Linked DNA regions of Homo sapiens: regions 2, 3 and 4 are each linked to region 1. Evidence: fine-mapped expression QTL. A gene starts in region 1. Each other region holds a variant in brackets. All regions are shown on one strand. Distances are between the middles of the regions. Region 1 holds the start of IFI35 (interferon induced protein 35). Region 2 overlaps STAT5B (signal transducer and activator of transcription 5B). Region 3 overlaps ATP6V0A1 (ATPase H+ transporting V0 subunit a1). Region 4 overlaps WNK4 (WNK lysine deficient protein kinase 4).

Evidence for each region. PIP is the estimated chance that this variant, and not a neighbour inherited with it, causes the effect.
Region 2: its variant is the best candidate, but not a certain one, in a credible set for the expression of IFI35 in prostate (GTEx, PIP 0.51).
Region 3: its variant is the best candidate, but not a certain one, in a credible set for the expression of IFI35 in lung (TOPMed, PIP 0.80).
Region 4: its variant is the best candidate, but not a certain one, in a credible set for the expression of IFI35 in tibial nerve (GTEx, PIP 0.60).

What each region holds. Positions count from the first base shown.
Region 1 is chr17:43,002,472-43,010,551 of GRCh38, reverse strand. IFI35 (interferon induced protein 35) reads right to left here and starts at 3,768. Exons shown (of 7, transcript NM_001330230.2): 1 at 3,584-3,768. The coding sequence starts at 3,604. RPL27 (ribosomal protein L27) reads right to left here. Exons shown (of 5, transcript NM_000988.5): 4 at 7,769-7,879; 5 at 7,593-7,680. The coding sequence ends at 7,632. RefSeq lists an enhancer at 3,599-3,908.
Region 2 is chr17:42,262,857-42,270,936 of GRCh38, reverse strand. All of the region lies in intron 1 of STAT5B (signal transducer and activator of transcription 5B), which reads left to right. Among named protein-coding and RNA genes, the nearest start is that of STAT5B, 9.5 kb to the left of the region's middle. The variant AAGG/G (reference allele first, on the strand shown) is at 3,657.
Region 3 is chr17:42,496,186-42,501,185 of GRCh38, reverse strand. ATP6V0A1 (ATPase H+ transporting V0 subunit a1) reads right to left here. Exons shown (of 22, transcript NM_001130021.3): 15 at 2,144-2,262; 16 at 263-479. Among named protein-coding and RNA genes, the nearest start is that of MIR548AT, 3.9 kb to the right of the region's middle. The variant A/G (reference allele first, on the strand shown) is at 2,382.
Region 4 is chr17:42,789,255-42,797,334 of GRCh38, reverse strand. WNK4 (WNK lysine deficient protein kinase 4) reads right to left here. Exons shown (of 19, transcript NM_032387.5): 12 at 3,606-3,743; 13 at 2,667-2,721; 14 at 1,953-2,563; 15 at 1,814-1,874; 16 at 1,302-1,710; 17 at 1,013-1,212; 18 at 757-854; 19 at 269-649. The coding sequence ends at 647. Among named protein-coding and RNA genes, the nearest start is that of COA3, 5.4 kb to the left of the region's middle. The variant G/A (reference allele first, on the strand shown) is at 3,535.

The DNA of each region.
Region 1 (8,080 bases):
TGACATTAATGAGTTAATAGAGCCATGTAGGATAACAGAGAGTGGTGGGGACTCTGACGCACTGGGAAGAGCATGTCCTTTCTAAAGTAAACTGCTTCTAGCCATAACAAAGTTTCCCCCCACAGCAAATCTACCCATGTTTTTGTTTTGTTTTGTTTTTTGAGACAAAGTCTCAATGCCACCCAGGCTGGAGTGCAATTGCTCCATTATGGCTCACTGCAGCCTCGACCTCCTGGAATCAATCAATCCTCTCATCTCAGCCTCCTGAGTACAGGCGTGTGCCATCATGCCAGCTATTTTTTTTTTTTCTTCTTTTTGGGACGGAGTCTCACCCTGTCGCCCAGGCTGGAGTGCAGTGGCGCGATCTCTGCTCACTGCAAGCTTCGCCTCCCAGTTCACTTCATTCTCCTGCCTCAGCCTCCCGATTAGCTGGGACTACAGGTGCCCGCCACCACGCCTGGCTAATTTTTTTGTATTTTTAGTAGAGACGGGGTTTCACCGTGTTAGCCAGGATGGTCTCGATCTCCTGACTTCATGATCTGCCCGTCTTAGCCTCCCAAAGTGCTGGGATTACAGGTGTGAGACACCGCGCCCAGCCCTCTATTTTTTTTTCTTTTCTGAGACGGAGTCTCCCTCTGTTGCCTAGGCTGGAGTGCAGTGGCGCAATATCGGCTCGCTGCAAACTCCACCTCCCGGATTCAACAGATTCTCCTGCCTCAGCCTCCCAAGTAGCTGGGATTACAGGCACCTGCCACCACTCCTGGCTAATTTTTTTTATTTTTTATTTATTTATTTATTTTGAGACAGAGTCTCGCTCTGTCGCCAGGCTGGAATGCAGTGGCAGGATCTCGGCTCACTGCGACCTCTGACTCCCGGGTTCAAGCGATTCTCCTGCCTCAGCCTCCCGAGTAGCTGGGACTACAGGCACGCACCACCATGCCCAGCTAATTTTTGTATTTTTAGTAGAGATGGGGTTTCACCATGTTGGCCAGGATGGTCTCAATCTCTTGACCTCGTGATCCACCCACCTCGGCCTCCCAAAGTGCTGGGATTACAGGAGTGAGCCACCGTGCCCGGCTCTAATTTTTTATTTTTAGTAGAGATGGGGTTTCACCATGTTGGCCAGGCTGGTCTCAAACTTCCCACCTGAAGTGATCTGCCCAACTCAGCCTCACAAAGTGCTGGGATTACAGGCAGGAGCCACGGACCCAGGCCCCCTAATCTTCCCATTTTTAATAGAAATAAAAAATCTGGGCAGGTTGTTGTGGCACATGCCTGTAATCCCAGCACTTTGGGAGGCCAAGGGAGGCAGATCGCTTGAGCCCAGGAGTCTGAGACCAGCCTGGGCAACAGGACAAAACTCTACCTCTACAAAATATTTAAAAATTAGCCAGGCATGGTGGCACATGCCTGTAGTCCCAGCTACTCGGGAGGCTGAGATGGAAGGATCTATTGATCCCTAGAGGTGGAGGTGGCTGCAGTGAGCCATGATCCAGCCACTGCACTGCAGCCTGGAAAAAACAGTGAGATCTTGTCTCCAAAAAACAAAAAATCTGGATTTTTATTTGAAAAAGATGGCCCAATTTAACGTATATAAAGCCGGGTGCTGTGGCTCAAGCCTGTAATCTCAGCATTTTGGGAGGCTAAGGGAGGCAGATCATGTGAGGTCAGGAGTTCGAGACCAGCCTGGCCAACATGCTGAAACCCTGTCTCTACAAAAAATTAGCCATGCTGGGCACGGTGGCTCACGCCTGTAATCCCAGCACTTTGGGAGGCTGAGGCAGGCGGATCACGAGGTCAGGAGTTCGAGACCATCCTGCCTAACACAGTGCAACCCCATCTCTACCAAAAATACAAAAAACTAGCTGGGCGTGGTGGCGGGTGCCTGTAGTCCCAGCTACTTGGGAGGCTGAAGCAAGAGAATGGCATGAACCCATGGGGCGGAGCTTGCTGTGAGCCGAGATCCTGCCACTGCACTCCAGCCTGGGTGACAGAGCGAGACTCCATCTCAAAAAAAAAAAAAAAAAAAAAAAATGAGCCAGGCGTGGTGGCATGTGTGCCTATAATCCCAGCTACTTGGGATGCTGAGGCAAGAGAATCACTTGAATCTGGAAGGCAGAGGTTGCAGTGAGCCAAGATCATGCTATTGCACTTCAGCCTGGGCAACAAGAGTGAAACTCCATCTCAAAAAAAAAAAAAAAAAAAAAAGGAAAGAAAAGTCCGGGCATGGTGGCTTACACCTGTAATCCCAGCACTTTGGGAGCTTGAGGGGGGCAGATCACGAGGTCAGAAGATCAAGACCATCCCGGCTAACACGGTGAAACTCCATTTCTACTAAAAATACAAAAAATTAGCCAGGCATGGTGGAACGTGCCTGTACTCCCAGTTACTTGGGAGGCTGAGGCAGGAGAATCGCTTGAACCCGGGAGGCAGAGGTTGCAGTGAGCCGAGATCATGCCACTGTACTCCAGCCTAGGAGACAGAGTGAGACTCCGTCTCAAAAAAAAAAAAAAAAAAGGGATTGTCCTTGGGGAACTGGGGTTCTGAAAAGGTTGGCAATAATAATATTAAGAAGAAACACATATTGAATGCTCTGTAGGTGCTAAGCAGTGGGATAAGTTTTTACCGTGTTAATCTATGGATTACCTAGTGTGATTCTTAAAGTATAATTCTTATAGTATATATATATATATATATATATATAAATTTTGTGTGTGTGTGTGTGTGAGAGACAGTCTCCCTCTGTTGCCCAGAGTGGAGCATAGTGGTACAATCTCGGCTCACTGCAACCTCTGCCTCCCAGGTTCAAGCAATTCTCCCGCCTCAGTCTCCCTAGTAGCTGGGATTACAGGTGTGTGCCACCATGCCTGGCTAATTTTTGTGTTTTTAGTAGAGATGGGGTTTTGCTATGTTGGCCAGGCTGGTCTCGAACTCCTAACCTCAAGTGATCCACACGCCTCAGCCTCCCAAAGTGCTGGCTGGGATTACAGGTGTGAGCCAACACACCCAGCCTAATTCCTTTAGTTTAATTTTTTTTTTTTTTTTTTTAGACAGAGTCTCGCTGTGTCACCCAGGCTGGAGTGCAGTGATGCAATCTCGGCTCACTGCAACCTCCGCCTCCCAGGTTCAAGTGATTCTCCTGTCTCAGCCTCCCAAGTAGCTGGGATTACAGGCGCACACCACCACACACAGCTAATTTTTTGTATTTTAGTAGAGACGGATTTTCACTGTATTGCCAAGGCCTCCCAAAGTGCTAGGATGACAGGCGTGAGACACCACGCCCGGCCTAGAACAATTGTTATTTGGGTCACAGAACCCGCTGAGTATCTGATGGAAACTACAGATTCTCTCTCCAGAGAAGTGTACACACACAGGATTTAATGAGCTCCTCCTGTCTGAGGCAATAGGTTAGGGAACCAACTCTTGCAGAGGCAACCCCAGCCCTGTGTTTCTCCCCAGCCCTTCAGCAGGTCTGAGATGGGCAGGGTGAGGCTTGGCTGCCAGGCCCTGAGATATCTGCAGGTTCCTAGCCAAGAGGATTACTCCTGTTTCCCCACTTCCCAACTCCCTCCTCCTCACTTACGGCATCCAGTGGGGCTGACATGGGTCTCGGGTCTGTTTGGCAAGAGCTGAGGCTTCAGAGCTGGGCACAGTGGCAGAATTCACAGCAACTGAACTCTTGTTTGTACCCCCCAAAGGGCTGTGGTCTCTCTCAGCCCCAGCAAGACCCGAAATACACCTCAGGAGGCTCTGCTCGCAGGCTGTTTGCTTCCACTTTCATTTCCGTGAAATCCCTGCCTTCTGGCGCTCACATGCCGCCCCCTGCCGAGGCTTCCCCACCCCTGGGAGGAGCCTTCTTGGTCAGCAAAGTCGACTTCACTCAGCCAGGCTGCCTCAAGGAAAGCCACCTCACCCCAACTGCAAACTGGCCCCCATCAACCATTCCCAGCAATCTCCGACAAGCCCATTGGTAGACCCTGCTTTGTCAATGGATTATTTCCCTAGAGCCTAGAATAATGCTGGGCACATTGAACATTGATAAAATAATTGCTGAATGAGCTGGGTGCGGCGGCTCACACCTGTAATCCCAGCATTCTGGGAGGCCCAGGCGGGCAGATCACCTGAGGTCAGGAGTTAGAGACCAGCCTGGCCAACATGGTGAAACCCCACCTTTACTAAAAAAATACAAAAATTAGCCGGGCGTGGAGGTGCATTCCTGTAATCCCAGCTACTTGGGAGGCCGAGGCAGGAGAATAGCTGGAACCCGGAGGCAGAGGTTGCATTGAGCTGAGATGGTGCCATTGCACTCCAGCCTGGGTGACAAGAGTGAAACTCCATCTCAAAAAATAAATAAAACAATAATTGCTGAATGAATGAGAAACACAGTCAGGACAGATAACGCCCATAGTTCAAGTTCACAAAACTGCCGGGTGCGGTGGCTCACACCTGTAATCCCAGCACTTTGGGAGGCCCAGGTGGGCAGATCACCTGAGATCCCAAGTTAGACACCAGCCTGGCCAACGTGGTGAAACCCCGTCTTTACTAAAAAAATACAAAAATTATCCGGGTGTGGTGGTGTATTCCTGTAATCCCAGCTACTTGGGAGGCCGAGGCAGGAGAATAGCTGGAACCTGGGAGGCAGAGGTTGCATTGAGCCAAGATCGCGCTGTTGCACTCCAGCCTGAGTGACAAGAGCGAAACTCCATCTCAAAAAATAATAATTGCTGAATGAATGAGAAACACAATCAGGACAGATAAAGTCCACAGTTCAAGTTCACAAAACTGCCAGGCGCAGTGGCTCATGCCTTGTAATCCCAGCACTTTGGGAGGTCCAGGCGGGTGGATCACGAGACCATCCTGGCCACCATGGTGAAACCCTGTCCCTACTAAAATACAAAAAATTAGCCGGGCCGGATCACACCACTGCACTCCAGCCTGGGCAACAGAGTGAGATTCTGACTAAAAAAAAAAAAAAAGTGCCAATCCCAGCAGCTGGGCCCACTGGTAACATGTGCCTATAGTTCCAGCAGGTTGAGGCAGGAGGACTGCTTGAGCCCAGGAGTTCGAGGCCAGCCTGGGCAACACAGTGAATCTTGTCTCTTAAAAAAAAAAAAAAAAAAAAAAAAAAGGCTGGGTGCAGTGGCTCACGCCTGTAATCCCAGCACTTTGGGAGGCTGAGGCGGTGAATCACTTGAGGTCAGGAGTTTGAGACCAGCCTGACCAACATGGGGAAACCCTGTCTCTACTAAAAATACAAAAATTAGCCGGGCGTGGTGGCATGCGCCTGTAGTCCCAGCTACTCGGGAGGCTGAGACGGGGGAATCGCTTGAACCCGGGAGGCGGAGCTTGCAGTGAGCCGAGATCGTGCCACTGCACTCCAGCTGGGTGACAGAGCGAGACTCTGGCTCAAAAAAAAAAAAAAGAAAAAAGTTCACAAAACTGTTAACAGTGGCCAGCAAGGAGAGCTATCGTCTGCCCAACACGCTTGTGCCTTACATGAATTAACTCTTCAAAACAATGCCATGAAGTTGGTTCTATTTTCTTCACTTTACAGATGAGAAAATTGAGGCACAGAGCATTAGAAACTTGCCCAAGGTCACAGGGCTAGGAATCAAAGCATGGATCCAAACCTGGTAGGAACAGTATTTACACTTGGGCCTTGAGGTAGAGTGGAAAAAAATTTGCTGTATTTTTCCTCAAAAGTTTTAAATTCAGCCCCATTTCTGTGACCCTGAGTAGGCAAGCTACTTAATAGAAGTCTGTCTCAATAGAGATGCCTTAATACTTAAGTGTGTGAAGATTCAATTAAAAAGTTTCCTGGCTGGGTGCAGTGGCTCACACCTGTAATCCCAGCACTTTGGGACGCCAAGGTGGGTGGATCATGAGATCAGAAGTTCAAGACCATCCTGGCCAACATAGTGAAACCCCATCTCTTCTAAAAATACAAAAATTAGCTGGGTGTGGTAGCACACTCCTGTAGTCCTAGCTACTTGGGAGGCTGAGGCAGGAGAATCGCTTGAACCCCGGGGCGGGGCAGAAGTTGCAGTGAGCCGATAGTGCCACCTCGCTCCGGACTGGGTGGGTGAAAGAGCAAAACTCCATCTTAAAAAAAAGTGGCTGGGCGCGGTGGCTCACGCCTGTATTCCAGCACTTTGGGAGGCTGAGGTAGAACGATCACAAGGTCAGGAGATCCAGACCATCCTGGCTAACACGGTGAAACCCCGTCTCTACTAGAAATACAAAAATATTAGCCGGGCATGGTGGCAGGCGCCTGTAGTCCCAGCTACTCGGGAGGCTGAGGCAGGAGAATGGCGTGAACCCGGGAGGCGGAGCTTGCAGTGAGCCGAGATCGTGCCACTGCACTCCAGCCTGGGCAACAGAGCAAGCCTCTGTCTCAAAAAAAAAAAAAAAAAGTTTCCTAGTAACCTAGCCCAAAGTTTTTTCCAGTTACTCACCAATCCTACTTTTGGCCCCTTCCCGCCACCCCGCCCCCTCTGGTTCCCAAGTGCAAGTGTGGTACCTAGCAGACTTGGCAAACTGGCCTGTTTGAATCTTAGTTCCCTCTAGCGACAGAACCATTCAGATGGAGCACCTATTTCATTCATGAAACATGACTAGTTACAGTCCATTGAGAGATAAAATGCCAGATCCTAAGAACCAAATGTCTCTCCTGCACTACACAGTAGTGGCACAACCCAATGCCCCAAAGCTCCTTTGATCACTTTCTTTCAAGTCTCTGCCAGCCAGGCCATTTGAGGAGCACTCCCTTGTCCTATTAAACAGCTGCTCTAGGCTCAGGGATTCACCAAAGGCATCTGTCGTTACCACCAGGAGCAGGTCTCCAGGGTGGTCCCCATCTCACCTACACCAGTACCAGTGTCACCTGAAAACCTGCTAGAAACTCAGACCTACTGGATCAGTCTGAGGGCAGGATTTCAGCAATCCGTGGTTTAACAAACCATCCAGGTGACCTCTATCTGTGCTAAGGTTTGAGAATTTCAGGTTAGTGGTTCTCAATCAAAAATACCTGATCCCCACCACTCAGGGGCCTTTGGTTGTCACAAGGAGGGGCAGAGTGTGTGTGGCAGAGGTTCTCCTGGCATGTAATGGGTAGAAGCCAGGGAGGCTACACAATTCTTCACAGGGATTATCAGGCTAAGGACAGAGGCAGCATAAATCTCATTAAGGCAGATTTAACATTTTCCCAGCCCCTCATCCATCACCCAGCGTCTTTTTTTTTTTTTTTTTTTGAGATGGAGTCTTGCTGTTGTCAGACTGCAGTGCAGTGGTGCTATCTCAGCCCTCCCTGCAACTTCCGCCTCCCGGGTTCAAGCAATTCTCCTGCCTCAACCTCCCGAGTAGCTGGGACTACAGGCGTGCACCACCAGGCCCAGATAATTCTTAGTATTTTTTAGGAGAGACAAGGTTTCACCATGTTGGCCATCTCTTGACCTGGTGATCCGCTCGCCTTGGCCTCCCAAAGTACTGGGATTACAGGCGTGAGCCACCGTGCCCAGCCCACCCAGTGTTTCCTATTCAATAATGTTCTCCTTTTCACAGTCTGGTAATACATACAGCATGCAGACACAGGCTTTTTTTCTTTATAATTTTTAATGATCAAAACAAAGCATCTAAAACCGCAGTTTCTGGAAGAACCACTTGTTCTTGCCTGTCTTGTATCTAGAAGGGAAAAAAAGAGGACACCAATGAGGAAAGGAATGGAAATAGTGAAACCATACTCCACCATTCACTACCAAAGCCTACTTACCTCTCTTCAAACTTGACCTTGGCCTCCCGTCGGGCCTTGCGTTTAAGAGCAGGATCTCTGAAGACATCCTTATTGACGACAGTTTTGTCCAAGGGGATATCCACAGAGTACCTGGGGACAAAGGTGGAGAGGCAGGATTAGCCCACATACTGCCGGGGCCCCTATACAGCCCAAATCCTTGTGGGACACTAGGGAATCAGGGTCTGACTCCTTAGAAGCAACCATCAAAAGCCATGTCCCGATGACATTATCTGAAAATTCACACTTTTTTTTTTTTGAGACGGAGTCTGAATCTTTCGTCCAGGCTGGACT
Region 2 (8,080 bases), 740 kb after region 1:
CACTGACAGTGTGCTGGGCAGACATTGTTTTCAGCTCTGGCCTTGTGTTAACTCGTGATTCTCAGAGGAGTGGGTATTATTCCCAGATGGAAGATGAAGAAATGGCCACAGAGAAGTTAAGTAATTTGTCCAAGGTCACATTACTGTTCTTGGCGGGGCTGATTCCAGAGACTGCATCCCTAACTAGTGTACAGCAAAAGCGAGCTGGCCACTGCCACTTTGTTATAAGACATTTTGTTTCTTTGAGGCTTGTATTTCTTTGTGTTCCCAAATGGAGTCTCGTTGGTTTTTGAATAGAAAATATTTTTATATGTTTAGGATTTTTTTAAATGTTGATGAAGATGGTGATAAATATTTTTCCAATTAAAGTATATACTTCTGGTGGAAATTATATTAAAGAAGAGAAAGTCTTAATTTTTATTATAAGTTGTCTTTCATTCTTCTTCCCCTAGCATTACCGTGTACATCATAGAAGAAGAGCTATAAGCTGTCTCCTTGGCCTCTGTTTACAAACAAAGGGATCATTTGTGCCAATGTAGTGGGTTTGTGTTGACATGCACGTCTGTACTGAGAACTCAACAATCCCACTCATTTTATTTACAACTTTATTTTGCGGGGATTTCTGTCCTATTCTTGTTGCATTAAAGCTTTTTAGAGCATTAGTCATGATTTCTGAGACAGATTTAAGAATTTTACTTATTTGGGCTAATTTATTATTATTATTTCTTGAGACAGAGCCTCGCTCTGTCACCCAGGCTGGAATGCAGTGGCGCGATCTTGGCTCACTGCAACCTCCGTCTCCTGGGTTCAAGAGATTCTCCTGCCCAGCCTCCGGAGTAGCTAGGACTACAGGCATGTGCCACCATGCCCAGCTAATTTTTGTATTTTTAGTAGAGACGGGGTTTTGACATGTTGGCCAGGCTGGTCTCGAACTCCTGACCTCAGGTGATCCTCCTGCCTTGGCCTTCCGAAGTGCTGGGATTACAGGCATAAGCCACCATGCCCAGCCTATTTGGGCGAATTTTTAAGGCAACTGAACTATTGTATGTCTAGAGCTCTGCAAAGGCCATTAGAAAATAGTCTCAGATTTTTTTTTTTTTTTCATTTATGATGCTTACTTTCTCTCAGCACTTTTCCTTGGGAGTGGATTGTGAAGTTAAGTCTTGGAAACAGAATTCACAACCCTAAAGCGTAGTGCTTTAACTTTGGGAGATCAAGTCACAGACAAGAAGAACTTCAATTCCCTGTGCAGAGTATAAACTTGTTCAAATAAACAGAGGATGTTAGCTTCCAGGATTGTCAACTGTCACCTTTGACCAGGGTTGAATTTTCTTTGAATGTTGACAGAAGTTACAATGTCAGTGGAAAAAGCTTAATGTGAGGTATCTATAACTCAGAATTTCCTTATGTTTGTGTCAGTGAGATCCTACAATTAAAGCTGCTTCTTTTTTTCTATGTCTGATGAGTTTTAAAAGCCTTCACTGGGGTTTTCCAGCCTTTAGGTGAGAGTAAGTTAAAAAGTTTGTGAGAAACTATTTTTTGTTGTCTAAAATTCAGAGCCTAGGTCGGGCCCAGTGGCTCACGCCTGTAATCCTAACAATTTGGGAGGCCGAGGCAAGCGGATCACGTGAGGTCAGGAGTTGGAGACCAGCCTGGCCAACATGGTGAAACCCTGTCTCTACTAAAAATACAAAAATTAGCCAGGTGTGGTGGTGCACGCCTGTAATCCCAGCTACTCAGGAGGCTGAGGCAGAAGAATCACTTGAACCCAGGAGGCAGAGGTTACAGTGAGCCGAGATCGCACTACTGTGCTCCAGCCTGGGAGACGGAGCGAGACTCCATCTCAAAAAAATAAATAAATTAAATAAATTCAGAGCCTATAGCTGGTGGCAAGTCACTGTTTTTGAAGGAGTGGGATTTTAAAAAATCTAACCTGGGCTAAATGTTAAGTTACATTCATACATGTCATTGTAGCCTATATAAAAAGAAACTTGAACACTTGATCTCTTAAAGTACTAAAAATTGGAATTCATCAGCTTTGTAATATAGCATTCATTCTACAGTATATTTAAATAGGTAAAATGTTCTGTTAGAAATAATGCTAATTCTGTTTTTTTGTTTAATGTTTCTAAAAATCTTTTGGTCATCTTTTAGGTTTAGGAAAAGTAGCAAATTAGAGATCTACAGAAATCTACAGCTCTTTAAAAATGAAACAGTTCACCCTGTGAATTTGTTTGCAGGATTGGTGATCTGTTTCTGATGCCAGGAAGGTGGGACTCCTATCTCATTTCTGATAGAAAGTGAGGGAAAGCTATGTATAGTGAGAACTGGATACTAGATTCTTATTCCGAAGGCATGGAAGGTTTAATATGTAAGGATACAATGTAAATAGTCCCTCTTTTTGTATTTTTCTTTGGTTATTGTTACGTAACTATAGTCGTTTGTCACTTAATGATACATGGTGACAAAGTTCTAAGAAATGCATTAGGCGATTTTGTCATTGTGGTACCATCATAGAGGGTACTTACACAAACGTAGATGGTGAGCCCTACTGCACACCTAGGCTGTATGATAAAGCCTATTGCTCCTAGACTACAAACCTGTGGAACATGTATACTGTATTGAGTACTGTAGACAATTGTAACACAAGGGTAAGTATTTGTGTATCTAAACATATCTAAATATAGAAAAGTTACAGTAAAAACATGGCATAAAGGATAAAAAATGGTACATCTATATAGGGTACTTAACAGGAATGGAGCTTGCAGGACTGGAAGTTGCTCTGGGCAACTCAGTGGGTGAATGGTGAGTGAATGTGAAGGCCTAGGACATTACTGTACATTACTGTAGATTTTAAAAATACTGTCTGGTTAGGCTACATTAAATGTATTTTGAAAATTGTTTCTTTCTTCAATAATAACCTTAGCCTACTGTAATACTTTTACTTTGTAAACTTTTTACTTTTTTTTTTTTTTTTTGAGATGGAGTCTTGCTCTTGTGGCCCAGGCTGGAGTGCAGTGGCGTGATCTCGGATCACTGCAACCTCTACCTCCCGGTTCAAGCAATTCTCCTTCCTCAGCCTCCCGAATAGCTGGGATTACAGGCGTGTGCCACCACGCCTGGCTAATTTTTGTATTTTTAGTAGAGACGGGGTTTCACCATGTTGGCCAGGCTGGTCTCAAACTTCTGACCTCAGGTGATCCACCCACTTTGACCTCCCAAAGTGCTCGGATTATAGGTGTGAGCCGCCGTGCCCGGCCAACTGTTTACTTTTTTACACTTTTAAACTCTTTTGTAGTAACACTTAGCTTAACACATAAACATGTACAGCTGTGCAACAATATTTTCTTTATGTTTTTATTCTTTTACTTTTTCTCTTTTTAAATAATTTTTAATTTTTCAAAACTTTAAAAACTTTTTAATTTTTCAAAACTTTAAAAACTTTTTCTTAAAAGTGAAGGCATAAACACACACATTAGTCTAGGCCTACACAGGGTCAGGGTCATCAGTATCACTGTCTTGCACCTCCACATCTTGTTCCACTGAAAGGTCTTCAGGGGCAGTAACACATATGGAGCTGTCATCTCTTGTGATAACAATGCCTCCTGAAGGACCTGCCTGAGGCTGTTTTACAGTTAACTTTTTTTTTTAAGTAG[AAGG/G]AGTACACTCTAAAATAACGATAAAAAGTATGGTAAATACATAAACCAGTAACATAGGCATTTATTATCATTATCAAGTATGTACTGCACGCAATTGTATGTGCTAGACTTTCACATGACTGGCAGTGCAGTGGGTTTGTTTACACCAGCATTGCCACAAACATGTGAGTCATGCATTGCATTACAACATTATGATGGCTACAGCGTCACTAGAGGATAGGAATTTTTCAGCTACGTTTTATTATCTTATGGGACCACAGTGATATATGTGGTCTGTCATTGACTGAAACGTCATTATGTGGTGCCTGACTACATATATGGAAACTCTGAGTGTAGTCATGTTTTACAAATGAGTTTATCTTGCAGTGAGTTTAAATATCAAGTAAAAATACTAATTTCATTGTAATGTATGAAGAGATTGGCCTTTCTCCTCATGTTGAAGGTATCAAAACAAAATAGAAAATATTTGGCTTCCTGAGTGGCATGGCTACAATTCACATGCTGAGTTGGTGATGAGGCAAGATCCCTTGACTTTGCAATACCAGAAAAATGCACATAGTTAAAAAAAAATAGAGACAGGGGTCTTGCTATGTCTCCAGGTGATCCCTCCCACCTCCACCTCCACACCTCCCACCTCAACCTTCCACAGTATTGGGATTACAGGAATGAGTCACTGCACCGGGCCAAAAAGCATATAATTTTAAGGGAATGATTTTTTTTTTTTTTTTTTTATTTTTTGAGACAGTGTCTTGCTCTGTTGCCCAGGATGAGTGAAGTGTGCCAGGAGTGGGTCCTTAAGTAAGAAAACGTATTACTTTAGACACACATTTAAAATTTTGTCCAAAAATGTGATATTCTCAAAATTTATGGTTTTGAATTTTATTTATTATTTTAATTTATTATTATTATTTTTTAAAGAGTGGGGTCTCACTATGTTGCCCGGGCTGGTCTCAAAGTCCTGAGCTCAAGTGATCCTCCCACCTCAGCCTCCAGAGTAGATGGGACTGCAGGTGTGAGCCCCTGAGCCTGGCTAGTTTTGAATTTTTATTACCCAAATGTGAAGAGGTCTAGTTTGCACAGAACTTAACATTACATTCCAGTTTTATTGGTAAATTTGAACAGGATATAAGTGGCTTTAATAACTAATAAAAGAAGATACATCTTATAGATACACATATGTCTTTTTATATGTATACATAAATATTTAAAACTTCTTTATGCCAAAAAATGCCAGAAACCAAAGCTAAGTGACAAAATAAGAAAAATATTTCTAATATATATGACAAAGCATTATGGGTAAATATTCGTAATATATAAGTAATCTATATAAGTAGTAAGAAAAAGATGATTCCCATAATAGAAAATGAACAAAAGAAGAACTACAAATAGCCGATAATCATATGAAACAGTGTTCACCCATACTGGAAATCAAGAAATGCAAATAAAAATGACAAGTTTTTTCAGTTAACAGATTTATGAAGACTAAAAATATTGAAAAATAAGAGCAGTGTTGCTTGGGAATGTGGGAAACTGGCACTTTCATACTCATTGGTTGAAATGTAAATGGGTGCTTTTTTTGGATGGCAGTTTGATACATGTATTGAGAGCTTAAAAGAGTGCATACTCAAGCTGGGCATGGGAGCTCAGGCCTGTAATCCCAGCACTTTGGGAAGCTAAGGCAGTCGGATCACGAGGTCAGGAGTTCAAGACCATCCCGGCCAACATGGTGAAACCCCGTCTCTACTAAAAATACAAAAATTAGCTGGGCATGGTGGCACGTGCCTGTAATCCCAGCTACTCGGGAGGCTGAGGCAGGGAGTCAGAGGTTGCTGTGAGCCGAGATCACACTACTGCACTCCAGCCTGGTGACAGAGCGAGACTTCGTCTCAAAAAAAAAAAAGAAGAGTACATACCCTTTGACTTAGCAGTTTCATTTAGATGAATTTCATTCTAGGACATCTGAAATATGTTTAAAGATTTGTACAAATAGGCATGGGCAAGGACTTCATGTCTAAAACACCAAAAGCGATGGCAACAAAAGACAAAATTGACAAATGGGATCTAATTAGACTAAAGAGCTTCTGCACAGCAAAAGAAACTACCATCAGAGTGAACAGGCAACCTACAAAATGGGAGAAAATTTTCGCAACCTACTCATCTGACAAAGGGCTAATATCCAGAATCTACAATGAACTCAAACAAATTTACAAGAAAAAAACAAACAACCCCATCAAAAAGTGGGCGAAGGACATGAACAGACACTTCTCAAAAGAAGACATTTATGCAGCCAAAAAACACATGAAAAAATGCTCACCATCACTGGCCATCAGAGAAATGCAAATCAAAACCACAATGAGATACCATCTCACACCAGTTAGAATGGCAATCATTAAAAAGTCAGGAAACAACAGGTGCTGGAGAGGATGTGGAGAAATAGGAACACTTTTACACTGTTGATGGGACTGTAAACTAGTTCAACCATTGTGGAAGTCAGTGTGGCGATTCCTCAGGGATCTAGAACTAGAAATACCATTTGACCCAGCCATCCCATTACTGGGTATATACCCAAAGGACTATAAATCATGCTGCTATAAAGACACATGCACACGTATGTTTATTGCGGCAGTATTCACAATAGCAAAGACTTGGAACCAACCCAGATGTCCAACAACGATAGACTGGATTAAGAAAATGTGGCACATACACACCATGGAATACTATGCAGCCATAAAAAATGATGAGTTCATGTCCTTTGTAGGGACATGGATGAAATTGGAAATCATCATTCTCAGTAAACTATCGCAAGAACAAAAAACCAAACACCACATATTCTCACTCATAGGTGGGAATTGAATAATGGGAACACATGGACACAGGAAGGGGAACATCACACTCTGGGGACTGTTGTGGGGTGGGGGGAGGGGGGAGGGATAGCATTGGGAGATATACCTAATGCCAGATGACGAGTTAGTGGGTGCAGCACACCAGCATGGCACATGTATACGTATGTAACTAACCTGCACAATGTGCACATGTACCCTAAAACTTAAAGTATAATAATAAATAAATTAAAAAAAAAAGATTTGTACAAAAGGAGTGTTACTTAAAATAGCAATAAATTGGAAAAATCTTGGTATTTCCATTAGAGGTTTAATAAACTAAATCATTTATTACACCTGTGTATAGCTGTCCAATAGAATACTGTCCAGCTATTTAAATTATGTTATAAAACAATATTTAATGACCTACACAAAATTCACTATATATTACTAAATGAAAAATGAAATTACAAACAATCATATACAATTGTGCCTGGAAAAAAGAACAGGCGCTGAAAAAAGATTTCTTCTGGGTCGTGGAGTTCCCTGTGTGTGTGTGTGTGTGTGTGTGTGTGTGTGTGTGTGTGCGCGCTTTCTAGTATCTTTCCATTTTTCTATAATAAACAGATTATGGCTGGGCACAGTGACTCATGCCTATATTTCCAGCACTTTGGGAGGCTGAGGTGGGAGGATCACTTGAGTCCAGGAGTTCAAGATCAGCCTGGGCAACATAGCAAGACCCTATCTCTACAAAAAATTAAAAAATTAGCTGGGCCTGGTGGCACATGCCTGTGGTCTCAACTACTTGGGAAGATGAAGTAGGAGGATCACTTGAGCCTGGGAGTTCGAGGCTGCAATGAGCTGTGATTGAGCCACTGCATTCGTCCTGGGTGACAGAGTGAGACCTTGTCTCAAAAACAACAAATAAAAACAAACAAAAAAACAGATGATAATACAGGGAATCCTTTTGTAATCAGGAAAAAAAAGTTATCTTTAAAATGGCTGTGTGTATTGATATGTCTTAGAACGTAGAATTTGTTTTTTGTTATCAGTGTTTTCTTTTTAGAAGCAGAAAAAAGAGTTTGTGATGTTTTTGTTAATTTTTTGGTATAGTATCCTGTTTTTTGACATCTTTTGTTGAACTATGTTAAAATCATCATAATTTCATTTAACATTTTTAGAGTTTAAATAATTTGAACTTCAGGACTGTGTTATTTCCTGTGCTTCGTGGTAGCCTGTATATTTTTACACAGAAGCTTATGGAGAATTATATTGTTATATAATATAATAAATTGTTAGGGAGACAGAGGTGAAAGGATTGCTTGAACCTGGGAAGTGGAGGCTGCAGTGAGCTATAATGGTGCCATTGCACTCCCAAGCCCGGGCAATGGACAGAGACCCTGTCTCTCTTTAAAAAAAAAAAAAAATTGTTTTTGTTTTTTTATATATATATATATATATATATATATATATATATATATATATATACACACACACACACACACACACACACACATATATATACATATATATATACACACATATATATACACATATATATACACACATATATATGTGTATATATACACACACATATATGTG
Region 3 (5,000 bases), 510 kb after region 1:
GAAGAAGGACAAGGTACATCATATAAAAGTCTACCGATCACATACGCAGTTTCCAAATATGGCACAAATTTCCCCCAACAGTACTTTCTTACTAATCTATGAATAACACTATCCAATTTCTCAAAATAATTATCACATTTTGTGGCAAAGCCCTAGAATTGTCCCATAGAAGGGCAGTTATAAATTTTTTAGGGTCAGAGAAACATCTGGCTTCCTGATCAAGTATAATCATCTCAGACAGTCTGCCTCTGGGCTGACGTACCTGTCCAGAATACAACATTGAATAACCAGACTCTGGGTAGGAAAAGAGGAACATGTTTATGAAATGGATCAGAAGGCTTGGTGCATTCTCAGAGGTATGAGCATCATAGGCCGTCCACTTGTAAAAAATAAGGATAACCAAATAGCCAAACAAAGAGGTCATGAAGATTATTTCAGGAATAAATCCAAAGTAGATATTCAGGGGCTTCTTGAAATAGCTAAAAAGGAGAGAGAAAAAAATGTTAAGGGTAAATGGGCCTAGGGCCACTCCTACACTGAATGGAGTATTCACTAGATTTTTCTACTTAATACCCCCTCAATTCTGTCTTTATCACTTTAAGCAGCAGCAACCAGAAGCTGGAGACAACAGAGACAATGCAGGATTAACTATCACGGTCAAACTTTTGAACCTTGGTTTTGTTTTGCTGTTGCTTTTTCTTTTTTGAGACAGGGTCTCACTCTGCTACCCAGCCTGGAGTACAGTGGTGCAATATTGGCTCACCGCAGTCTTAACCTCCCTGGGCTTAGGCAATCCTCTTACCTCAGCCTCTCGAGTAGCTGGGACTACAGGCATGCGCCACCACACCCAGCTAATTTTTACATTTTTTTGTAGAGATGGGGTTTTGCCATGTTGCCCAGACTGGTCTTGAACTCCTGACATCAGGTGATCTGCCCGCCTTGGCCTCCCAAAGTGCAGGATGACAGATGTGAGCCATTGTGCCAGGCCTTAAACTTTTGAACCTTGAACGGCTCCAATACCATCCCCACCATTCTCTCCATGAGAAAGAGAATGGAAAAATCTAGTACATTTTGAGACCACAGTTCATAACTTTTTTTTTTTTTTTTTTTTGTAGAGATGGGGTCTTTTGCCGTGTTACCCAGGCTTGTCTTGAACTCTTGGGCTCAAGTGATCCGCCTGCCTTGGCCTCCCAAAGTGCTGGCATTACAGGTGTGAGCCCCCACACCCAGTCCACAGCTAATAATTTTATGTGAGTTGCACATCAAGGAAAAAAAGAGACCTCACTTATTTTGATGAAAATTGCTCAAGTTTTTTTCAAGGATCTTTACTGGAACAGTAAATTGTTAAAGGACTAATATTAAGTCTAATTTAAGACCATCAACATTTTTTTTTTTTTTGAGATGGAGTCTTGCTCTGTCACCCCGACTGGAGTGCAGTGGTGTTATCTTGGTTTACTGCAACCTCTGCCTCCTGGGTTCAAGCAATTCTCCTGCCTCAGCCACCAGAGTAGCTGGGATTACAGGTGCACGCCACCACACCCGGCTAATTTTTTGTATTTTTAGTAGAGACGGAGTTTCACCATGTGGGCCAGGCTGGTCTTGAACTCCTGACCTCAAGTGATCTGCCCGCCTCATCTTCCCAAAGTGCTGGATTACAAGTGTAAGCCACTGCACCCGGCCAGACCATGAAATTTATTTATTTATTTATTTTTTTTGAGGCAGAGTCTCACTCTGTCGCTCAGGCTGGAGTGCAGTGGTGCCATCTTGTCTCACTGCGACCTCTGCCTCCCAGGTTCAAGCAATTCTCCTGCCTCAGCCTCCCGAATAGCTGGGAATATAGGCGCGTGCCACTACACCTGGCTGATTTTTGTATTTTTAGTAGAGACGGGGTTTCATCGTGTTGGCCAGGCTGGTTTCGAACTCCTGACCTCAGGTGATCCACCGGCCTTGGCCTCCCAAAGTACTGGGATTACAGGCATGATCCACCGCGCCTGGCCACACCATTAAATTTTTAGAAAAGCACTTCTATAATGTAGAATGAGGTTCTGAGTTATTAATCCCTCCCCAAAGATGTCATGATTTCTTTACACAAAAGCATTCTCTAAACTATGCACATTCTTATGACAGAAATGGAACAACTCACATATGGTTGAACAGACTCAGGCTGACTCCAAACAGCATATGGATGATACCAAGGATAACAGACATCTTCATCTTAAAGGAGTTCAAGAACGTCAGTTTATTGGTAGCAATGTTCCAAATCTGTCATAACCCGAGAAAACAAATAGGTATTATAAAGAATTCTCAAAGGGAAAAATATTCCTCTGTTTAAAAAACAATTTTTATTTATTTATTTATTTAGAGACGAGTCTCGCTCTGTC[A/G]CCCAGGCTGGAGTGCAGTGGCGTGATCTCAGCTCACTGCAAGCTCTGCCTTCCGGGTTCACGCCATTCTCCTGCCTCAGCCTCCCAAGTAGCTGGGACTACAGGTGCCTGCCACCACGCCCAGCTATTTTTTTGTATTTTTAGTAGAGACAGGGTTTCACCGTGTTAGCCAGGATGGTCTCGATTCATGACCTCGTGATTCGCCCGCCTCAGCCTCCCAAAGTGCTGGGATTACAGGCGTGAGCCACCGCGCCCGGTCGACAATTTTTATTTATTAATCAATATTATTTATTATGGAAAATTCTAAACAGATACTTAAGCAGACAGGATGGTACAACAAACTCCCAGGCACCTATCACTCTGCTTCGACAAAATTTTTTTTTTTAATCTTGCTTTTGAGGAGAATGCTTCAAAAATTAACATCACCTTATAGTCATGAAAAAAGATTACTGCCACTCACTCATCTCCACATTACTAAAAAGTCCAGATATCATGTCATTTTACCTGTAAATATTTCAGTGTGGATGTCTAAAAGGAAAAGACTTATTTATTTATTTATTTATTTATTGAGATGGAATTTCGCTCTTTTTGCCCAGGATGGAGTGCAGTGTTCATGATCTCGCTGACTGCAACTTCCACCTCCTGCCTTGCCTCAGCCTCCCAGGTAGCTGGGATTACAGGCACAGGCCACGATGCCCAGCTAATTTTGTATTTTTAGTAGAGATGGGGTTTCACCATGTTGGCCAGGCTGGTCTCAAACTCCTGACCTCAGGTCTGGCCTGAGGCTTGCCTCGGCCTCCCAAACTGCTTGGATTACAGGCTTGAGTCACTGCGCCCGGCCAGTAAGGCTTTTTTTTTTTTTCTTTTTTTTTTGAGATGAACTCTCGCTCTGTCACCCAGGCTGGAGTGCAGTGGTGAAATCTCGGCCTATTGCAAGGTGGGGTTTTCACCATGTTAGCCAGGAAGGTCTCGATCTCTTGACCTCATGATCCGCCCGCCTTGGCCTCCCAAATTGCTGGGATTACAGGCGTGAGCCACCGCGCCCGGCCAGGACTTATTTTTAAAACATGACCACAATATTGTCATCACACGTAAATGCATTAACAATGATTTCTTTTTTTTTTTTTTCTTTTAGATGGAGTCTTACTCTGTCGCCCAGGCTGGAGTGCAGTGGCATGATCTCGGCTCGCTACAACCTCTGCCTCCTGGGTTCAAGCAATTCTCTGCCTCAACTTCCCGAGTAGCTGGAATTACAGGTGCTCGCCACCACGCCTGGCTAATTTTTTTTGTATTTTTAGTAGAGATGGGATTTCACCATCTTGGCCAGGCAGGTCTTGAACTCCTGACCTCGTGATCCACCAGCCTCGGCCTCCCAAAGTGCTGGGATTACAGGTGTGAGCCACCGTGCCCAGCTAACAATGATTCTTTAATATCATAAAATATATAGTCAATATTCAAATTTCTCTGATCTGTGTCCAAACCATTTTTTTTTTTTTTTTTTTTTGAGACAGGGTCTTCACTCTGTCACCCAGGCCGGAGTGCAGTTACGTGATCTTGGCTCACTGCAACCTCTGCCTCCCAGGTTCAAGCTGTTCTCCTGCCTTAGCCTCCTGCCTTAGGACTACAGGCGTGCACCACCACACCCGGCCAATTTTTATACTTCTGGTAGAGATGGGGTTTCACTATGTTGCCCTGGCTGGTCTGGAATTTCCTGACCGCAAGTCATCTGTCTGCCTCGGCCTCCCAAAGTGCTGGGATTACAGGCGTGAGCCACCGTGCCTGGCTTATACATTATGATTGTAGATATATCTCTTGAGTCTCTAAACTACAGGTTCTCCTTCCATCTTTCCTTTTTCATTCATTACAAAATTTCTTTTGAAGAAATTGGGTTGTTTATCTTATATATTTTCCCACAGTCTATGTTTCGCTGATTGTAGCCCTGTGGTGCTGTCATTCCATCTATTTTTTTGAGATGGAGTCTTGCTATGTCCCCCAGGCTGGAGTGCAGTGGCACGATCTGGGCTCACTGCAACCTCCTCCTCCCGGGCGCAAGCAATTCTTCCACAGCCTCCTGTAGCTGGGACTACAGGCATATGCCACCGTGCCCAGCTAATTTCTGTATTTTTAGTAGAGATGGGGTTTCACCATGTTGACCAGGCTGGTCTCGAACTCCTGACCTCAAGTGATCCACCTGACTCTGTGTCCCAAAGTGCTGGGATTACAGGCATGAGCCACCTCGCCCAGCCTGTATTATTTTTTTTTTTCCTCAGCAGTCAGATGCCCTGTATTACATTCTTGCCGCCACTCCATTTTTACAGCACACAATAAAGAAGACTTGATCATACTTAATTTGCCTAAGCATTTGAAAAAAAAATTAATTCTCGGATAAGTTTTTGTAAGTTCGTAAATATAAGAATGCAAGTCTAAAATCCACAGGAAAAATATATTTCTGCTTTGCTAAAATGTCTGCTAAAAATAAAAAACCAAACTAAGTAAGCAGAAATAAATTAAGAAATGGGAAGGAGTCTTGAAAAATCAATCTTCCCAGAGTCGATATTATTAACCACCTCAGAAATAAGCAGCGCAGGGAAAAGTATGTGGCTCCTCAAGGCACTTGGG
Region 4 (8,080 bases), 210 kb after region 1:
GAAAGACAAGCAGTCTTCATTCTTTTAACTTTCCCTGGTACCTGCCTATACAGGTCTAGGGTGGGGTCTGGAGGGGATCCTAACTTAGTCAAGTGGATCACTGACCTTGCAGTTTCCTCATTAACTGATGGCAGGAAGCCAGAGGGCTGGGCAGCTTCCACCCCTGCCTCCCATTGTGAAAAGAAAGTCCCTTTTAAATCCTCCCCTGCCTCACCCCACAAGTCTTTGCTCCCCCAATTCCTAAGGCATGGCATATGGATTCACGGCGTTCTTGTTTCCAGCATTTTTATTGGTTGCTGCTAATGTGGTGTGAGCATATCCCCTACACTCTCCCAGCTGGGAGTGGGCCCCTCTAGAAGCATCCAGGCTTGGGTGGGATTGCTTAGTGGTTGACTCTTGGCAGGGGAGGTGCTAGAGATGAAGATGGTAGGCAGCAGAACTAACACCTCCACACAGCAAACAGTTCACATATGTTTGGCTCTTCACTATAATGGAGCTGCACTCTCCATGCCCCCCTGGCCTTCTACCCCTTCAGTGTTGGGATCTTCCTTGCTCAGTTTTGTTGATCAGAAAGCATCAGATTCTGAGAACACAAGCTCCATGGTGGGCCCTGGTGTGGGGGAGATACATGGCTTCTGTTCTGAATTCACTGGAGGGAAAAGAAAAAGTGATGAAGAAACCTCCAAGGTGGGAGGAAGGCGAAGCTGCAGCCAGGTACCATTCCCTGGGCTCTCCCTCCCTTGGGCCCGCCCTCACCATCCTGCCAACATCCCCGGCGAATGTCACCCCCTTGCTTGCCCGCTGCTCCTGGGAGCCGGTGCTGCTGCCACTCAGAGAGTTCCTTCGCATGATGCCTGGGAGCAGGATGGGGGAAGGAGAGCACTAAGTGAGGAAAGGGGAGGTGGGGAGAGGGGGTCTATTCCCCCGGGGCAGACCCCCAGGGCCTGGAGAAAAACAGTCGACAGAAAGGGGTCTCAGGGAAAAGATGGAAGCTGGGTGACTGCAGTCTCACCAGGGCCTGGGGGCTCAGAGCGCTGTAGGCTGTTGCGGCGGGAGGTGGGGAAGCTGCCCTTGGAGAGGCGGCGCTGGCGGCTGGACAGCATAGCAGCTGGGGCCACAATACCCGGTGGGGGCTGCTTCCCCAGCCGGCTGTACAAATCTTCAATTTCTTTTTTCTGTAGTGTCTGTAGTGTTTCCACCTCTGACAAGTGCCTGAGGATGCACGGAGGGCATGAAAGGGCTAGCCACACACCTTGCTCTCCCAGGTTCTCCTCTCACTCCTCCATCCTCCCGAGACTCACTTCTGCCGAAGACTCTGCAGCTCAGCCCAGAACTCCTCATCTTCCCCACTGCTTTCTGACTCCTCGCTGCTCAAACACAGGCTGCTGTAGGAGTAGTTCATCCACACTGGGCTGGGATGGCTCAGGGGTTGGGGGCTGCCCCCAACTTGGGGTTCCTTCCCATCATCTCCTTCCTCCTCAACTCCAGCCCCCAGACCCTCAGCTGCACGGTCGCTCTCAGCCAGAGCTTCCCTGGTCTCTGGCCCGCCTCCAGCACTGTCCTCTGTATCTGAGCTCTCTGAAGTGAGCTGAGGGGTTGAAGGTTTTGGAGAACCAGAGAGAGTGGGGGATGTTGGCTGCAAGGGAAGAGGCTCAGCCGGTTCCTTGGATGAAGTCACTTGGAAACGCCCAACAAGCTGCGGCTTTCCCTCTGTAGGGCGACGAGGAAGAAGGCATGAGGAAAGGAGAGCAGTGACAGGACAGACAGTGAGTAGGGATAATGGCAGGGGAAGGTCAGTGGTCAGAGGCCTTACCTTCAGAGATGGGCGCCAGCCTGGCTTCCCCTGGGAGGGGCCGAGCAGGAGGTGGTGAGGCCTAGAAAGTGGGGGGCCATGAGAAGGGAAGAGTGCAGAGTGGAGTCTCCCTAATCATCCCTCTTGGTTTTCTACTCACCTCACTCTCCACCTCAGCTGTGTGGGGTGAAGGGCTTTCCTGGCCACCAGGAGCAACGGGAGGGGGAAGGGGCAGGCTAGGGAGGGGACTAGGAGGGGCTGGAGGAGACTGGGAAAGGAGCCCAGGTGAGGGGGACAGCAGGGACTGGGCCACAGTCATCACAGCCAGTGAGAAGGCACTAGCCAGAGAAAGGAGAGGGGCTGCTGTGGTGGAGGGGAAGGAAGAAGTGGAGGGGCACGGAGGAAAGAAAGGGGAACTAAGAGTGACCTGAGAACAAGTGGGAGAGAACGTAGGTGGAGAAGTCGTGGGGAGAGAACTCCAGGGACACTGAGAGAGTGGGACCGGAAACTCGGGTGTGCTGGAGGAGAATGGAAGTGGAGAGCTGGTGGGGTGTGGAGAGGGATTTGAGGAGACCTGGGAAGAAATGGGGGAGAATGGGGAGGGGCTGGGATGACATGGGGGAGAAGTGATGGGGAAGATGGGACCTGGGGAAATGGGGGTTCCAGGGGAAAATGGGTTTCCAGGAGACAAAGGAGTTCCAGGAGAAGATGAGGAGGTGGAGAAGGCTGTCCAGCTCCTGTGCTCCAGGGAGGTGCTGCTCTGGAGCTCTTCTGGGAAGGAGGGTATGTTGAGACCACAGTCCCACATGCCCTATGCCCTTCCCAGGAGCAACCCCAGGGGTTGGGATGAGCAAGGACACAACTCAGTACATACCATTGGATGGGTCTGGGAGGGGGACGGGCAGGGCAGGTAATGGTGCTGGCTCCTCCTGAGGCAGAAAAAGGAGTCCGCAGTCACAGTGGGGAAGAGCAGTCTGAGATGGAAGGTGTCAGACCGGGGTTCCTAAGCTAGGACCCATGAACCTATAGGAGTCTGTACATGAGTTTCAAGGGATTCAGAAGCATATGTGCTGAAATGTATAGAGGTAAAAGGGCATGATGTCTGCAACTTACTCTTAAGTGGTTCCGAAAAATATATTATGTATGCACACATACAGAGGGGAGAGGAAGAGACAATGATGACGCTAAGGTGGCAAAACACTAACAAGTGGCAAATCTGGGCAAAGGGTATCCAGTGGTTCTTTATATAATTCTTGCAACTTCTCTCCACAAGTCTGAAATTATTTCAAAATAATGAGTTAAAAGAAAAGTATGTATTGAACAAGTTTTCTAGAACAAGAGTCCATGGCTTTCATCATATTCTCAAATGGGCTAAGAGCCACTGTTTTAGGCCAGGCACGGTGGCTCACACCTGTAATCCCAGCACTTTGGGAGGCCGAGGAGGGCGGATCACGAGGTCAGGAGATCGAGACCAGCCTGGCTAACACGGTGAAACCCTGTCTCTACTAAAAATACAAAAAAAATTAGCCGGGTGTGGTGGCGAGCGCCTGTAGTCCCAGCTACTCGGGAGGCTGGGACAGGAGAATGGCGTGAACCCGGGAGGCGGAGCTTGCAGTGAGCCGAGATCGTGCCACTGCACTCCAGCCTGGGCGACAGAGTGAGACTCCATCTCAAAAAAAAAAAAAAGCGCCACTGTTTTAGGGTCCCAGAGATGAAGAGGAGTTAAATCCAAGGGGACCGCT[G/A]AGGGCAGAGAGTAATAAACCCTGGAGCAGAGAGTCCATTTCCCCTGGAAGTGTCCACCAAGGGGTCTGACCTGGGGGCTTAGGGTGTCTTCAGCAGCCTCCATGGGGCCAGTGTCTCTCTTCAACAGGGTCTCCACTCGCTGGATAATCTCCCGAATCCGTCTGAGAAATCCATCTCGCTCCGAAGGCAGAATGAACTCGTTATATACCTTGCGAGGGTCAACAGGATGGGGAGGGAGAGCTTGTTATCTCACTCATCCCTCTCCCCCTGCTTCTGATCTTAAAACATCAGGCTGGGCGCGGTGGCTCACGCCTGTAATCCTAGCACTTTGGGAGGCCGAGGCGGGCGGATCACCTGAAGTCAGGAGTTTAAGACCAGCCTGGCCAACATGGTGATACCCTATCTCTACTAAAATACAAAAATTAGCTGGGCATGATGGCGGGCACCTGTAATCCCAGCTACTTGGGAGGCTAAGACGGGAGAATCACTTGAACCTGGGAAACGGTGGAGCCAAGATCACACCACCGCACTCCAGCCTGGACGACTGAGCGAGACTCCGTCTCAAAAAAATAAAAATAAAAAATCCACCCTTCACACTACTGCTCCTGCCAACCACCAACCTAAAACAAGTAAATACCTATTGTGTTCCAGGCACTGTGTGGTGTAAGGAGAAATACAGCCTAGAAGGAAAGGTGCTAACATTCATAGGATGCGTATATATACCAGCTGCTTTGCGTATATTATCACATTTAACACCACCAGTAACTTTCTGGGGCCCACATTAATATTGCTATGGTAGAATTAAGATAACCAATGCTCAAAGAGGTTAAGTTCCGTCTGCCTAAGGTCACAGGATTTAAACCCACATCTACCTAAAGCCAGAGCCTGAGTTATCTTCACTGCTGCCTCCCATGTTTTGGACACAATTTCTGCCCCATAGTGTTTATAAAGTATAACACACAGGCCCACATACACCCATCCCACACGGTTAAGTCAGAATAAGGCAATAAATGGCAAATGTCACATTCAAATCCATGAATACTTATTGAGCACCTACTATGTGCTGGCATTGTGCTGGGTACTGTGGGAATACAAGGAAGCATGAAACAAGGTCCTAGGCTTAACGAAGCCCAAAACTTAGTGGAGGAGACACATAAATACGTAATTAAACTTACTGCAAGGCAGCCCGTAATACGTAAGGCACTTACAAGTGAGATATAGATAGAAATGTTGTTCCAGGGTTGGGGGGATGGGGGTGTGGAGAGGCAGAGTTGTTTAATGGGTACAGAGTTTCAGATTTGCAAGGTAAGAAAACCCCTGGAGATCTGTTTCACAGCAATGTGAATATACTTAATATTGCTGAACTGTACACTTAAAAATGGTTACGGTGGTAAATTTTATATTTATGGTTTTTTAATCACAATTTTTTAAAATGCTATTCCAAAGACAGAATACCACCCTGGGGATAGGGGGAAGCTGGAGCAGTTTCACAGAGTAAGTCTTTGGAGCTGAACATTGACAGATGAGAAAAGCAATCTCTATTGAGGACCTACCATGTGTGGACACTTCTACATTACACTGTGTCGTATCAGAACATCTTTGCAAAACAAATACTATCATCTGCATTTTACTTACATGCAACTGAAGTTTACAGAGTTAAGAAACTTGCCTAAGTTCATTGGATTAGTAAATAACAGAGCTGAAGTTTGAACTTAGGTATTACATGAAAGCGACCCCTTCCTCTATTCCAGGCTGTTCATCAGGAAGAGAAGAGCAGTCTAGGCAGAGAGAACAGTGTAGTAGCTTTGAAGCATGAAAGGCATGGTACATTATTATTTTTTTTTTTTTTTGAGACTGAGCCTTGCTCTATCACCCAGGCTGGAGTGCAGTGGCACAATCTTGGCTCACTGCAACCTCACCTTCTGGGTTCAAGAGATTCTCCTGCATCAGCCTCTTGAGTAGCTGGGACTGCCTGGCACCATGCCCAGCTAATTTTTATATTTTTAGTAGAGACAGGGCTTCATGTTGGCCAGGCTGGTCTCGAACTCCTGACCTCAAGTGATCTACCTGCCTCAGCCTCCCAAAAGTGCTGGGATTACAAGTGTGAGCCACTGCGCCCGGCCTATTCAATCTTTCTTTCTTTCTTCTTTTTTTTTTTTTGAGACAGAGTTTCGCTCTTGTTGCCCAGGCTGGAGTGCAATGGTATGACCGTGGCTCACCGCAACCTCCACCTCCTGGGTTCAAGTGATTCTCCTGCCTCAGCCTCCCAAGTAGCTGGGATTACAGGCATGCGCCACCACGCCCAGCTAATTTTGTATTTTTTAGTAGAGACGGGGTTTCTCCATGTTGGTCAGGCTGGTCTTGAACTCCCGACCTCAGGTCATCTGCCTGCCTCGGCCTCCCAAAGTGCTGGGATTACAGGCGTGAGCCACCATGCCCGGCACAGCCTATTCTTAAAATAGTGAGGACTCAAGTGTAGCTGAATGTGCTGTGAATTTTAAAGGCTTTGGAATTTGGACCTTACTCTACAACCACAAGTAGCCACTAAATAATTTCGGGTGAATATCAAGAGATCAGATCCAAGTCTCAGGAGAATTCTGCTGCAGAGGAGTGGAGGGTGGACTGGGTAAGGAGAGAAAAGAGGGCAAAGGACTCTGGGTGCATGGGGTGGGGTCACTTTGGCTGTGCAGGATCAGAGGGGACTTGAAAGCCCAATACAGAAGGCTCTACGAGTGAGAGACCCTTAAGGAGGTGGAGGCAGAGGCAGGAAGGCACCCAGCCTTTTCAGAGGCCCATTTTGAAACCAGTGTGGCTGGATGGAAGACTCTGAAAGAGTCAAGTGGTTTGACGGAAGGTGATGAGCCTTGTGTGCCAGGTGATATTGTGTCTTTGTCCTGGACACAAGGTGAATGACATGATGGAGGAGATGCTTTAGAGAGGGCTCCTGATGCCTGGTGTTTCTCCCATTCCTTTCCCTCCTTCACCCCATGGGCTGGCATCCACCACCCCCACTCCACTGAAACTGGTCTCCCACAAAGATCTCCTAACAAAAGCCAGTGTGGTCTTGCCTGAGGATTCATCCTATGCCACCTCCTTGAAACTCTCTCCTCACTCAGTTTTGACTAACATCCTCCTACGTCTCTGGCTTTGTCTCTGTGTCCTTCGATGACCTACCCTCCCGCTTCCCACTCCAGAACTGGTGGTATGCGCTGAGACACACTCTGCAACCCTCTGTGTCTCTGGCTTTGCCGGCTCATCTCCCTTCACTCTCAACTCTGTACTGACTACTCCTCCATCCACATCTCTCCAGCCCTGCCTGACCCATATCCATGGCTATGGAGGGTCTTGTCTTGGCTGTCCCTTCTTCACTCAAGCTCATCATGACCTCCTTAAAAAAAACCTTCTTTCATTTCTAATTTCCTCTCTCCTTTGGTGGCCTACTCTCCTACTCTCCTTTGGTGGCCTACAAGTTGTCCTTGACATCCCTTCTCCCTAACTCCCAATCATATCAACTCAGCAAATATTTATTGAGCATCTACTATGTACTATGTTCTCTACTACGTCAATAGGTTACTGGATTACAGAGTAACTTATTTTCCCGAAACAACCCTCAGATTCACCCTTTCTCCTCTTCCCTCCCATAAGCCACTCTCTCCTTTGTCCACAGATGGCTTCCTGGGTCTACCTCCCAGGTATTTTCCCTTCCCCCTTCCACATCCCATGGCAGATGATTTTCATAAAGCCTACTGTCACGTTACACTGTGCCTTTTTGTTTTTTTGTTTTTGTTTTTTTTTGAGACAAAGTTCACTCTGTCTTCCAGGCTGGAGTGCAGTGGCGTGATCAAAGCTCACTGCAGCCTTGACCTCCCAGGCTCAAGTGATCCTCCCACCTCAGCCTCCCAAGTAGTTGGGATGACAGGCATGTGCCGCCACACACGGCTAATTTTTTAAATTTTTTGTAGAGATAGGGTCTCATTATATTACCAGGGTGGTCTTGAACCCCTGGGCTCAAGCAATCCTCCTACTTCATCCACCCAAAGTGCTGGGATTACAGGTGTGAGCCACTGGACCTAGCCTGCTCTGCCTCTCTATTTATTTATTTATTTATTTATTTATTTATTTATTTATTTATTTTTAGACAGAATCTCACTCTTGTCGCCCAGGCTGGAGTGCAATGGTGTGATCTCGGCTCACTGCAACCTCCGCCTCCCGGGTTCAAGCAATTCTCCTGCCTCAGCCTCCCAAGTAGCTGGGACTACAGGCATGCGCCACCACACCCAGCTAATTTTTGTATTTTTTAGTAGAGACGGGGTTTCACCATGTTGGCCAAGCTGGTCTTGAACTCCTGACCTCGGGTGATCTGCCTGCCTCGGCCTCGGCCTCCCAAAGTGCTGGGATTACAGGTGTGAGCCACCACGCCTGGCCTCTGCCTAACTCTTAACATTGTCTATTCTACAATCTGGGCCCACTCTACCTACCCGGCTTCACTCCCCACAACTCTCCTATAGGAATCTTTACTTCCAGTGATAGTGGTTTCCTCATGAA